Linked DNA regions of Homo sapiens: region 1 is linked to region 2. Evidence: fine-mapped expression QTL. A gene starts in region 2. The other region holds a variant in brackets. All regions are shown on one strand. Distances are between the middles of the regions.

Region 1 (5,392 bases), 280 kb after region 2:
TAGTTCCATATAGCTGGGAAGGCCACAGAGTCATGCCGGGAGGTGAAAGGCACTGCTTACATGGCAGAGGCAAGAGAAAAATGAGGAAGAAGCAAAAGCAGAAAGCCCTGAAAAACCCATCAGACCTCGTGAGATTTATTCACTATCATGAGAAGAGCACAGGAAAGACTGGCCCCATGATTCAACCACCTCCCCCTGGGTCCCTCCCACAACACTTGGGAATTCTGGGAGATACAATTCAAGTGAGATTTTGGTGGGTTCCAGTCAAACCATATCATTCTGCCCCTGGGCCCTGCAAATCTCATGTCCTCACATTGCAAAACCGATCATGCCTTCTCAACAGTTCCCCATAGTCTTAACTCATTTCAGCATTAACCCAAAAGTCCACAGTCCAAAGTCTCATCTGAGTCAAGGCCAGTCCTTCCACCTATGAGCCTGTAAAACGAAAGCAAGCTAGTAGTTACTTCCTAGATACAATGGGGGTACAGGTATTGGGTAAATATATCCATTCCAAATGGGAGAAATTGGCCAAAACAAAGGGGTTACAGGGCCCATGAAAGTCCAAAATCCAGCAGGGCAGTCAATTTTTTTCTTTTTTTCTTTTTTTCTTTTTTTTTTTTTTGAGATGGAGTCTTGCTCTGTCACCCAGGCTGGAGTGCAGTGGCGTGATCTTGGCTCACTGCAAGCTCTGCATCCCTGGTTCATGCCATTTTCCTGCCTCCACCTCCCGAGTAGCTGGGACTACAGGCGCCTGCCACCATGCCTGGCTAATTTTTTGTATTTTTAGTAGAGACGGGGTTTCACCGTGTTAGCCAGAATGGTCTCGATCTCCTGACTTCATGATCTGCCTGCCTTGGCGTCTCAAGTTGCTGGGATTACAGGCATAAGCCACTGCACCAGGCCACAAGGCAGTCAAATTTTAAAGCTCCAAAATGATCTCCTCTGACTCCAGATCTCACATCAAGGTCACACTGATGCAAGAGGTGGGTTCCCATGGTCTCTAGCAGCTCCAACCTATGACTTTGCAGGGTACAGCCTCCCTCCTGTCTGCTTTCACAGGTTGGCATTGAGTGTCTGTGGCTTTTCTGGGTGCACAGTGCAAGCTGTTGGTGGATCTACCATTCTGGGGTCTGGAGGATGGTTGCCCTCTCTTCTCAGATGAGGGGACCCTCTCCTCCCCAGTAAGATGCAGTGTGGGGGCTCCAATCCCACATTTCCCTTCCACACTGCCCTAGCAGAGGTTCTCCATGAGGGCCCTGCCCTTGCAGCAAATTTTTGCCTGGGCATCCAGTTGTTTCCATACATCTTCTGAAATCTAGGCAGAGGTTCCAAAACCTCAGTTCTTGACTTCTGAGCACCCACATGCTCAACATCACATGGAAGCTCTCAGGGCTTGGGGCTTCCACTCTCTGAAACCACAGCCCAAGCCGTACATTGGCCCCTTTCAGCCACAGCTGGAGTAGCTGGGACAAAGGGCACCAAGTCCCTAGGCTGCTCATGGCATGAGAACCCTGGGCCCATCGAACAAAACCAGTTTTTCCTACTGGGCCTCTGTGCCTGTGATGGGAGGGCCTGCTGGGAAGTTCTCTGACATGGCCTAGAGACATTCTCCCATGATCTTGGGGATTAACATTAGGCTCCTTGCTACTTATGCAAATTTCTGCAGCTGGCTTGAATTTCTCCCCTAGAAAATGGGTTTTTCTTTTCTAATGCATTGTCAGGCTGTAAATTCTCCAAACTTTTAGTCTCTGCTTCCCTTATAAAACTGAATGCCTTTAACAGCATCCAAGTCACCTCTTGAATGCTTTGCTGCTTAGAAATTTCTTCCACCAGATACCCTAAATCACCTCTCTCAAGTTCAAAGTTCCACAAATCTCTAGGGCAGGGGCAAAATGGCACCAGTCTCTTTGCTAAAACATGACAAGAGTCACCTTTGCTCCAGTTCCCAAAAATTTCCTCATCTCCATCTGAGACCACCTCAGCCTGGACGTTTTCATATCACTATCGGCATTTTTGTCAAAGCCAATCAACAAGTCCCAAAGAGGTTTCAAACTTGCCCACATTTTCCTGTCTTCTTCTGAGCCCTCCAAATTGTTCCAGCTTCTGCCTGTTACCCAGTTCCAAAGTCACTTCCACATTTTCGGGTATCTTTTCAGCAAGGTTGCCCTCTACTGGTACCAATTTACTGTATTAGTCCATTTTAATGCTGCTAATAAAGACATACCCAAAACGGAACAAAAAAAGAGGTTTAATTGGACTTACAGTTCCACATAGTTGGGGGGGTCTCAGAATCATGGCAGAAGGCAAAAGGCACTTCTTACATAGCGGCGGCAAGCAAATTAGGCAGAAGCAAAAGTGGAAACCCCTGCTAAACCATCAGATCTTGTGAGACTTATTCACTATCATGAAAATAGTATGGGAAAGACTAACCTCCACGATTC[A/G]GTTATGTCCCCCTGGGTCCTTCCCACAACACATGGGAATTCTGGGAGATATAATTCAAGTTGAGATTTCAGTGAGGACACAGACAAACTATATCATATAGTTTAGATAGATATAGTGAGATATGAGGGAGACATTGGTCAGGGATGTACTTAGAAGAAAAACTATCATTTAGACTTTATAAAATTACAAAACAATTACTGGGATGAATTATTAGCATAAGAAATAATGCACAAAAGGGTAAAGGGCTAAAAATTTATTAGAGTGTTATAGATTTAAAAGACCTTCTAAAATCCCCCAACTGTCTCCATACACATACACACCACTTACAAAGTTTCAAGTTTATTAGGGCAGGATATAGAACACATGGAATGTATGCTGTCATACAGAACAGATGATAATGCAACAGATATTTGTGAGACACTTTCTTGAGTTGTTTTCCATAAAAGTTTCCATGCTGTACACAACACTTTTCTGCTAGAATTGAGAAGGAAGCTAATTTCTTGTTGTGACCTGCCCATTTAAACTCTGGGTAATTTACCCATCACTGGAATAAACAAACAACGGCTCCTTTAACTTTCTCTAAGCCATGAGCCTCTACTGCCCCATCAAAGCAAACTCATTATGGATGAGAGGATGGAGAGATATGTAAAAGAAGTCAGCACTAATGCCTCCTAGATTATACTTCTGCCTCCAGATCTCTAACAGACTCAAAGCCTATCTCTTCATGTACAAACACTATGTGGCTGAGTGTACAGAATGAAGAGCTGTAATGGTTAAACAGAGAAGGAAGAAAGAGGACTTTCTACAGGAGGTTGAGACATTGCATTTAAATTATATCTGATGGGAGCTAATTAAAATTTTTGAGAAAAGTAAAGAAGGGATAAATTATTCAAACTTAAAAAGAAAAACTTTCTTTTTTTGGAAGCAGAGAAGACAAAATGGAAGAAGGAGAGATTATAGAGATTTGAGATCTCAGGGTGAGATGATAGTCTTAATAAAGAACACAGTAAATGAAGGGGAGAAAGATATGTGTGTGGGAGTATGAAGGAAAAATTGAATGGGCAACGGTCGGGGAGACATGACCACATTGGAGAGAGATTTTATTGATTATATGACATATTGGGAGGGCTATGGTGAAAGAGGGAGAAGAGCTGACAATAAACCTTGTTTAAAATATCACAGTCAGTACTGAAAACTCACATCCTCAATCTACATAATGCTGGTCAGATAAAGACCTCTTGAAATTGAAGATCATAAACAGAAGTTCATTTATTGGGTTTCAGGGCTGAATTTTTAAATACCTTTTATGAATAGTCTTTATATTGATGGGAATTGAACAGCTTATATTTGTCTTTGACAAAAATGAGTGGATTTGCTAGAATTTTATTTTCTGGAACACATTTATCCAACTCTGGAGAAACATCAGAGTTCTAGACAGGTTTCAATAGCAGTCTATAAATCATCAAATTCTCCTATGAAAAGTGTCTGAGCCAACTGGTTTAGCTTGTTGAATTCATATAATTAGAAAAGAAAAAAAGGTATAGGAAAGCCAAGTTACCCCATTAGGTTGTAGGTAGAAACAGAATAGTTGCAGAATACTTAAGACATAACTTATCTAGCCATTTACTTCTGACATATATGTTTGTTTTGTTATTTCTTTAATAGTCATTATCATTTGCATTTACATATGGAGGCTCATGAATATATATATTTACATATATATGACAAATTATTTCCTGATTCTCTTCCTGTTTGACCAGAACAGGATTTTTAAAAACTTTCGCCTGCTATCACCTTGAAAATGTGAGTATATAATATTTTCTTAACATTTCACAAATAGTGTAGAGTTAATAACTAGTGTACCTATATCTCTATTGAAATTCTCTTTTGCATCATGAAAGAGAACTCAGCTATAACTAGAATCATACTCCCTTTTACATCTCCTTTATGCATGAGGAATTAACCTAGGCCATCCTCTCCATATTCTGTCTCCCCATATATTTTGTTTCCTTGTTTAGAGTAATAAAATCATAAAATATATTGAAATTGAAATTAGGGGTGAAATGTGAAATCTTACTTAGAAATATGTAAACTGTATGATTTTTACCCTAGATTTGTGCTTAGGGCACTGAACTCTTGTACACATTTGTCTACCTTTCTATTCTTACTTATTGCAGTTACCATTTGTTGAGATTATTGACTTAGTTGATTCTAATTTGGTCTTTATCCTTTCTAATCTTCTCATTTTGTTCCTCCATTATATTTTATATTTTTCTAATGTTTAATTTTCAAAATTCTTGCAATAGACAGTTTGGTCACCTGAAACTTATGGTTGTCAAAAAAATACCTATACTGATGAATCTAAAATTTCTTTTTCTAGTCCTGAGTTTTATTTTAATATATCTTACTACATATCTGGATATTCTCAACTATTTGTTAAAAAATTGTCACCATTTAATCAAAAAAATTCTTATGGTCATAAATTCTTTTTTTCCTTCATTCTATACTTCCTACCCAAATTAGATTTAAAAATAGTTCTAGACTTTGTTAGCATGTATCACTTCATTCAGTCAAAATTTTTCTGCTTTTAGCTTTTGTATTATTCTAGATTTAATCACTTTTTCTGTAGTAACTATGACTTTATTACTTACCATTTCACTAAGTGCTTGAGTCAATAATAAAAACACCCTTCACAATGTATAATGGATCAAATGTAATAGAAATTGTTTTCTAGGTAAAAGATCAAAATAGTTATTCTGCATTACCACATAGTTTTTCTCCAAGGTCTGCTTTGAGTTTCCAAACTTTTTACATTTTTCCGCTTCAACATTTACAGCTGGCTTTAAAGGTAAGTGTTCTCATGTACATCAAACTTGTACTGAGGGAAAGCACTTGGAGAATCAAACATTCATTTAAAAATTTAGTATAAGATTGATGCAAAGGTTATTGT
Region 2 (5,392 bases):
ATTTAGATAATAGTACTCTGATCATATCTTCTAAAAATGTGTATGGCAGCAAGGTGTTATATAGAGGTACACTCTGGCTTGGCTCAGTAGATTTACTGATGTTACTAAGGATGTCCTGAACAATATTCTCAGCCACTGAATTAGAATAGGTAGAAGCTGAAAAATCCCCAGAAAACAGTGGATGAAGAAGGTAATCTGAAATAGCTGCTACAATTAAATTGGTAATATTTTCCACAAAAATGCCACTGTCTTCAGACTCTTTATCAACAGCAAGGTCTAGCCCATGCTGCTTTAAAGCATTTCTATAAACTGAGGTGGCAAGTTCATCCACAATATCTGTATTGAAAGAAAAGAAAGCCTGTTCTTTGTCATCATAGAGAATGTGAATTTTAGCTTTATTGAAATGCCTATTTATGGAGTTTACTATTCTTTGGGTCATGTTTTTCAACTCAATTTCAGTGTTATGCTTTGGGCTGAAAATCTTTGACAAAAGTCTGGCAACAATCTCCCTTACAAATGAATCAAGGTGAATATCTAAAGGTGATTGCTTCTGAGGTCTGTGTGACTCTATCACTTCACTCAGAACCTGTGTAACAATAGTAGACACTGGATCCAGTGGAGTCCTTGGATGACATAAAACCTCTCCACTCAAAAATGGTTGAAGATGATTTTCGATAATCTCTTGGATGATAAAGCTGGCTATTTGGTCAATCATAATTGGGCTTCGGCTTACTATACTTTTTTGTATTGAAACAAGAGAGTCAGACATTTGCAAAATATTACAATATACAGAATCCACCATCTTTTGGAGGTTTTTTCCAGTATATAGATATTGATTATCATATATAGTGAACCAGATTTTATGTTTTGAAATGGCTGACATAACCTTATTTATTATACAAGTGGACATTTCATTAAAATCAGAACTCATTAAATATTTTTTTCCTAAAGAGGAACATGTAATGGGTGGAGGAATTAGCTGAGATAAAAGCCTTCTTATGACATCTTCTAAAAATGAATGTGATAACATGGTACTATAGTCTGATGAAGACCTGGGTAGAGAAGTAAATTCTGTTAGGTTACTTTGAAGCTTTTGCAATATAATTTCAGGTTTGAGAGGGTAATATGAATGGGGTATGAGATGTTCCTTGAAGCAAGATGGCAGTTTGTAGTCTAAAATCTCTAACAATATGCCATTTGTTATTTGTTCTGCTATTGAGGCATTGTCGTATACCGGATTATTACCACAGGCCACTTTTAATTCATACTGCTGTAAAACATCATAATAAACTGAGTCAACAATTTTGCTAACAGTTTCTGTATGAACTGGTGGAAAACACAGCCTTTCTTCAGCATTCCGTAGAACAGTGACTTGAGCATTATTAAATTCATTCACTACATTGTTGACAAATAATGTATTCATCTCATTGAGCCAGGACACAGTGATGTTTTTATTTTTGCCCCACAATGACATAGAGAGATTAAAAAACAATTCTGAAATTATTCCTTCCAAAAATGTGGCTGAATAAACACCAGCATATATACCTTCCTGATGTAGCTTATTATGAATGGCTACCTTATCCATTTCCTTTGTTCTCTGTCTTTCAAAAGGTGACACAGAAGAGGATTTTACTGCACAATGCTTGTTAAATGGTGCTTGTATTTTGGAGCTAACCACACTGGGATTATTCAGGGATACTGTCAAAGAATTACTATCATAGCTCCTGAGTTCTAAAGAACTTTTACTCTGTCCTAATTCTATTAATTCTGACTTTCTTGCTTTTATGAAACTAGACTGTATTTCTCTTGTTCTGTAGTTCAAATGCTTATTTGCAAAAGGTAGACTTTCCGGAGCTTGTTGTATGCTGTGAGATAATTTGTCCATCAATGATTTAACCAAGCTGTGGGAAATAATAGTAAGCATAGAGTCTGATGTCAATAAGTCTTGATCAATTTCTGCCACATTCTCCAAAAGGTCTGACATGTAATCTACTTGAAGGCATTCACAGTCCATTCCTCCCTTACGATAATCAGATTTTCCATCTTCTACACTTTGAAGCATTTTTAAAAGTTGACATTCTTCTGCTGATGTTTCCTCTGAAACAGACCCTTTATCAGGAAAAGCAGTGCTTGTGCATTCTTCCAAAAGTATTCTGATAAGTTTCTCACATACAACATTGAGAAGAAAAACTGATTTTGAGGAGAGCTGTAGGTTATTGGTAAGTATGCTATTAGGTTGCTCATTATTCGAGGAGTAGAAATATGTTCTTTGTATTTTACCAGAATCCATACCCGTATCTAGGCATTCATCTGGTGAAAATAAATCTGAAACAATATTAAAAACTTTATTGACTACTTCTTTGGATTCACTTGTTTTTAGGTTACCAACCAGGCTGTTTAACTTACATGCAAGATAACTTAACTTATTTTTTTGAAAAAGTTGACCAATTTGTTGAGTAGAAAATTGCCAGTCTCTGGGGCTTGCCTGTCTATTGATTTTGTTGCAAAGGGGTACACTATTATTTCTATGCATAGAAAATGATTTGTTTCTTACATTGCTTTCAAAGTGATAATCTACTTCTATTTCTTTGGACAGTACATGAATCACTCCTACTAAGAGATCCTGAAAGAGGTCATCAAAGCCACCAGAAACTATTCCTGGACAGTAAGTGTATTTTGTAGGTATGGCAACCATTTTCTGTGCAATGTCAGCCTGTATAATTTTATTATTAAAAAGAATTTTAATAATGATTTCAGAAATACATAAAGCAAGTTCTCCAATGGAAATTGACCTGCTCTCAAACACTTGAGAATGAATTGAAATAATCTTGCTAAATGTTGCTTCTTGAATTTCCCATGCTTTCTCTTTTTCTCTACCCTTTTTGGTGCCATCAGAAATGCTCGAAGTTAAATGGTAAAGTACTGACTCAGTGAGATGTTCACAACATTGATAAATTGAAGAATCATCGTATATGTTTCTTAGGAACTGTTTTGATTCATATTTTTTCCTTGACCATGTAGAAACAGACATCTTTTCCTCACTAAAAACTTAAAAAAGGAAACATTGTAATTTTAGCATGGATTAAAGAAAATATAGAAAATTCAATATATTTGAAATTATTATTTACATATATATTTCACCCTTTGAGCAACTCACTAAAGAAAAATCTAAACAAAAAAAGAAATTAGATTTTCCTCAAACATTTATTTTCTCACCTTGCAAAATCTTAATTTTAGCCAATAAATTGAGAAAATAACACCCCAAAATTCAATCCTCTAAGTCAAATGCTGATGTCTGCCTTGGTTGGATGGTTATGAACTCTTAAGAAGCTGGAAAGCTTGGGGCAGAGAAATAATTTCCAGGCTTAGCGATGCATCCTACCATGTCTCCAGTGATACCTAGAGGTGCCATATAATTATTTTAAAATAGCTTTAGACAAAACATTTAATGTTATGCTATGTTTTACTTTTAGGACATTAAGGAGTTGTGTTGCAATATCAAGTTGACTAAAATAAAAGTGTGGCAACTCCAGAAAAGCTAGTAATAGATTGCAATAGCAGTAGTACTTTAGTCCCTAGATTATAGTTTGTCACAAAGAAGGAAGGTTGGCCCAGCCAGGTGAAGAACTCTATATTTGTTTTGTCCAAAATTCTATTTGTTACAAATCATTACCTATTTGCAATGGCCAACTGCTGGGTGTGGCAGCCAAGAGCAACACAGTTTTTTTCCTCAGAACTTAATTATATATTATATATCTTCATGTGTTATCAGGCAAGACTCTACACAGATAGAAGACTTTAAGCTGAGCTTTGACTGCTACACAGGTTTTGGCCATGTCAAGATACAGGGAATGAGGAAAAGGTATTCCTAGTGGAAGAAGGAACATGAGCGAAGTCACTGGAAGACCTTGGAGATGTCTGAGAATAGGAATATAGAATTGTTAGAGCCAAGTGTCAATGTGATGAAATCATGGATCTTCTCTTGCTTGTTTTGCTTTTGTTTATTTTTCTGAAATCAATTAAGTCATGCCTGGAGTAAGTCTATTTAAGAGTTTGTAGTTGTAGCTACATTACCGTCCATCTTGGGAGAATACTGGTTTTAAGGATGGAAAATAACCTCCTCGTGCAGGTGGGTAGGACTGCTAATATCTCCAATTAGAATGATGTGTGATGTATCTGGACTGGTGATGTAGCAAGTAATTATTGGTAACTGAAACTACTGACCTAGATCTGGGGTATTATAGTAATACTAAACTGAATTTTATTAATTGTCAATAATCAACTGTTTTTGATATACAAAATGACGATTACATGTTGTTTCACCTAATATATACACATGAGTATACTTAGAAAGATAATGCAAATATAATCCCTGTAATGATACAGTTGGAGTATTATATCTAAAAGGAATTTAAGTCAGAATACTGGAATGCAAATAAAACAAGATATTCAATTCTACTGTTCTTTTAAACTTTGAATAATAATAACAAAGCCTTCAAGAATACAAAAATTAAATGACTTTTAATCAGTTAACTGCACATCCCATATGATTATAAAGAAGTTATGCATAAGAATTTTAAAAACCCTTCCAAATTTATGCCTCATGCTCAACCAAAATCTCCTGCTTTAAAATGGCCTCATTTTCTCTCATTTGTAGATAGAGAAAACTGAGCAACACATCCTTCAAATTCAAATCCTGAAAACATTTATTTATTTTTATTTTTTTGCATTGTGATGAATTAAAAAGCAATTGAGGCTGAGCACAGTGGCTCATGCCAGTAATCCCAACACTTTGAGGGGCCGAGAAAGAAGGATCACATGAGGCCAGGAGTTTGAGACCAGCCTGCGCAACATAGCAAAACCCTGTCTCTACAAAAAGATTTTTAAAAATTAGAGTGCAGTGGCATGCCTGTGGTCCCAGCTATTTTGGGGGAAGGCTGAGATGGGAGGATGTCTTCAGTCCAGGAGTTCAAGGCTGCAGGAAGCAATGATCATGCCACTGTACTCTAGCCTCAGTGACAGAGACACTATTTCTAAATAAAATAAAATAATACATTTAAAATAAAATTAAAGTGCAACTCAGTAGTCATCTACCTCCAAGGGTATTTTCAGAAAAATAGTGAATACAGCTTTTTAGACAGGAGATCTTTTAAACATGTCTTTTACTGGTTTTCTTCCTAAATCATGCAAATTTTTAGGTACGTTCTCTCTTGCTTACCTGTAGTTTCAAAGTTCTTCAAATATGTGACCACAGATGTGGTGACATGTCTTGCTATCAGATGAACTTCATTGGAACCCATTTCATGATCAGCAAAAGTAAAGGCTTCAACTTCCTTCACAGTCTCTATCTTTGGGTACTCCTTTTTTTTCAATTTTTGCAAAAAAGAAGAAT

Direction of the effects. Alleles are on the strand shown, and positions count from the first base shown. SD is a standard deviation of normalised expression in the study named.
In carriers of allele A in region 1, the expression in visceral fat of the gene that starts at base 2,595 in region 2 tends to be higher than with G alone (small effect, 0.39 SD a copy in GTEx).

The links. PIP is the estimated chance that this variant, and not a neighbour inherited with it, causes the effect. A credible set is the group of variants that fine-mapping cannot tell apart.
Region 1: its variant is the best candidate, but not a certain one, in a credible set for the expression of FSIP2-AS1 in visceral fat (GTEx, PIP 0.51).

Annotation. Positions count from the first base shown.
Region 1 is chr2:185,519,452-185,524,843 of GRCh38, reverse strand. No RefSeq gene overlaps it. Among named protein-coding and RNA genes, the nearest start is that of FSIP2, 220 kb to the left of the region's middle. The variant A/G (reference allele first, on the strand shown) is at 2,442.
Region 2 is chr2:185,797,353-185,802,744 of GRCh38, reverse strand. It overlaps FSIP2-AS1 (FSIP2 antisense RNA 1), which reads left to right and starts at 2,595. Exons shown (of 3, transcript NR_144453.1): 1 at 2,595-2,665. It overlaps FSIP2 (fibrous sheath interacting protein 2), which reads right to left. Exons shown (of 23, transcript NM_173651.4): 16 at 5,219-5,392; 17 at 1-3,048.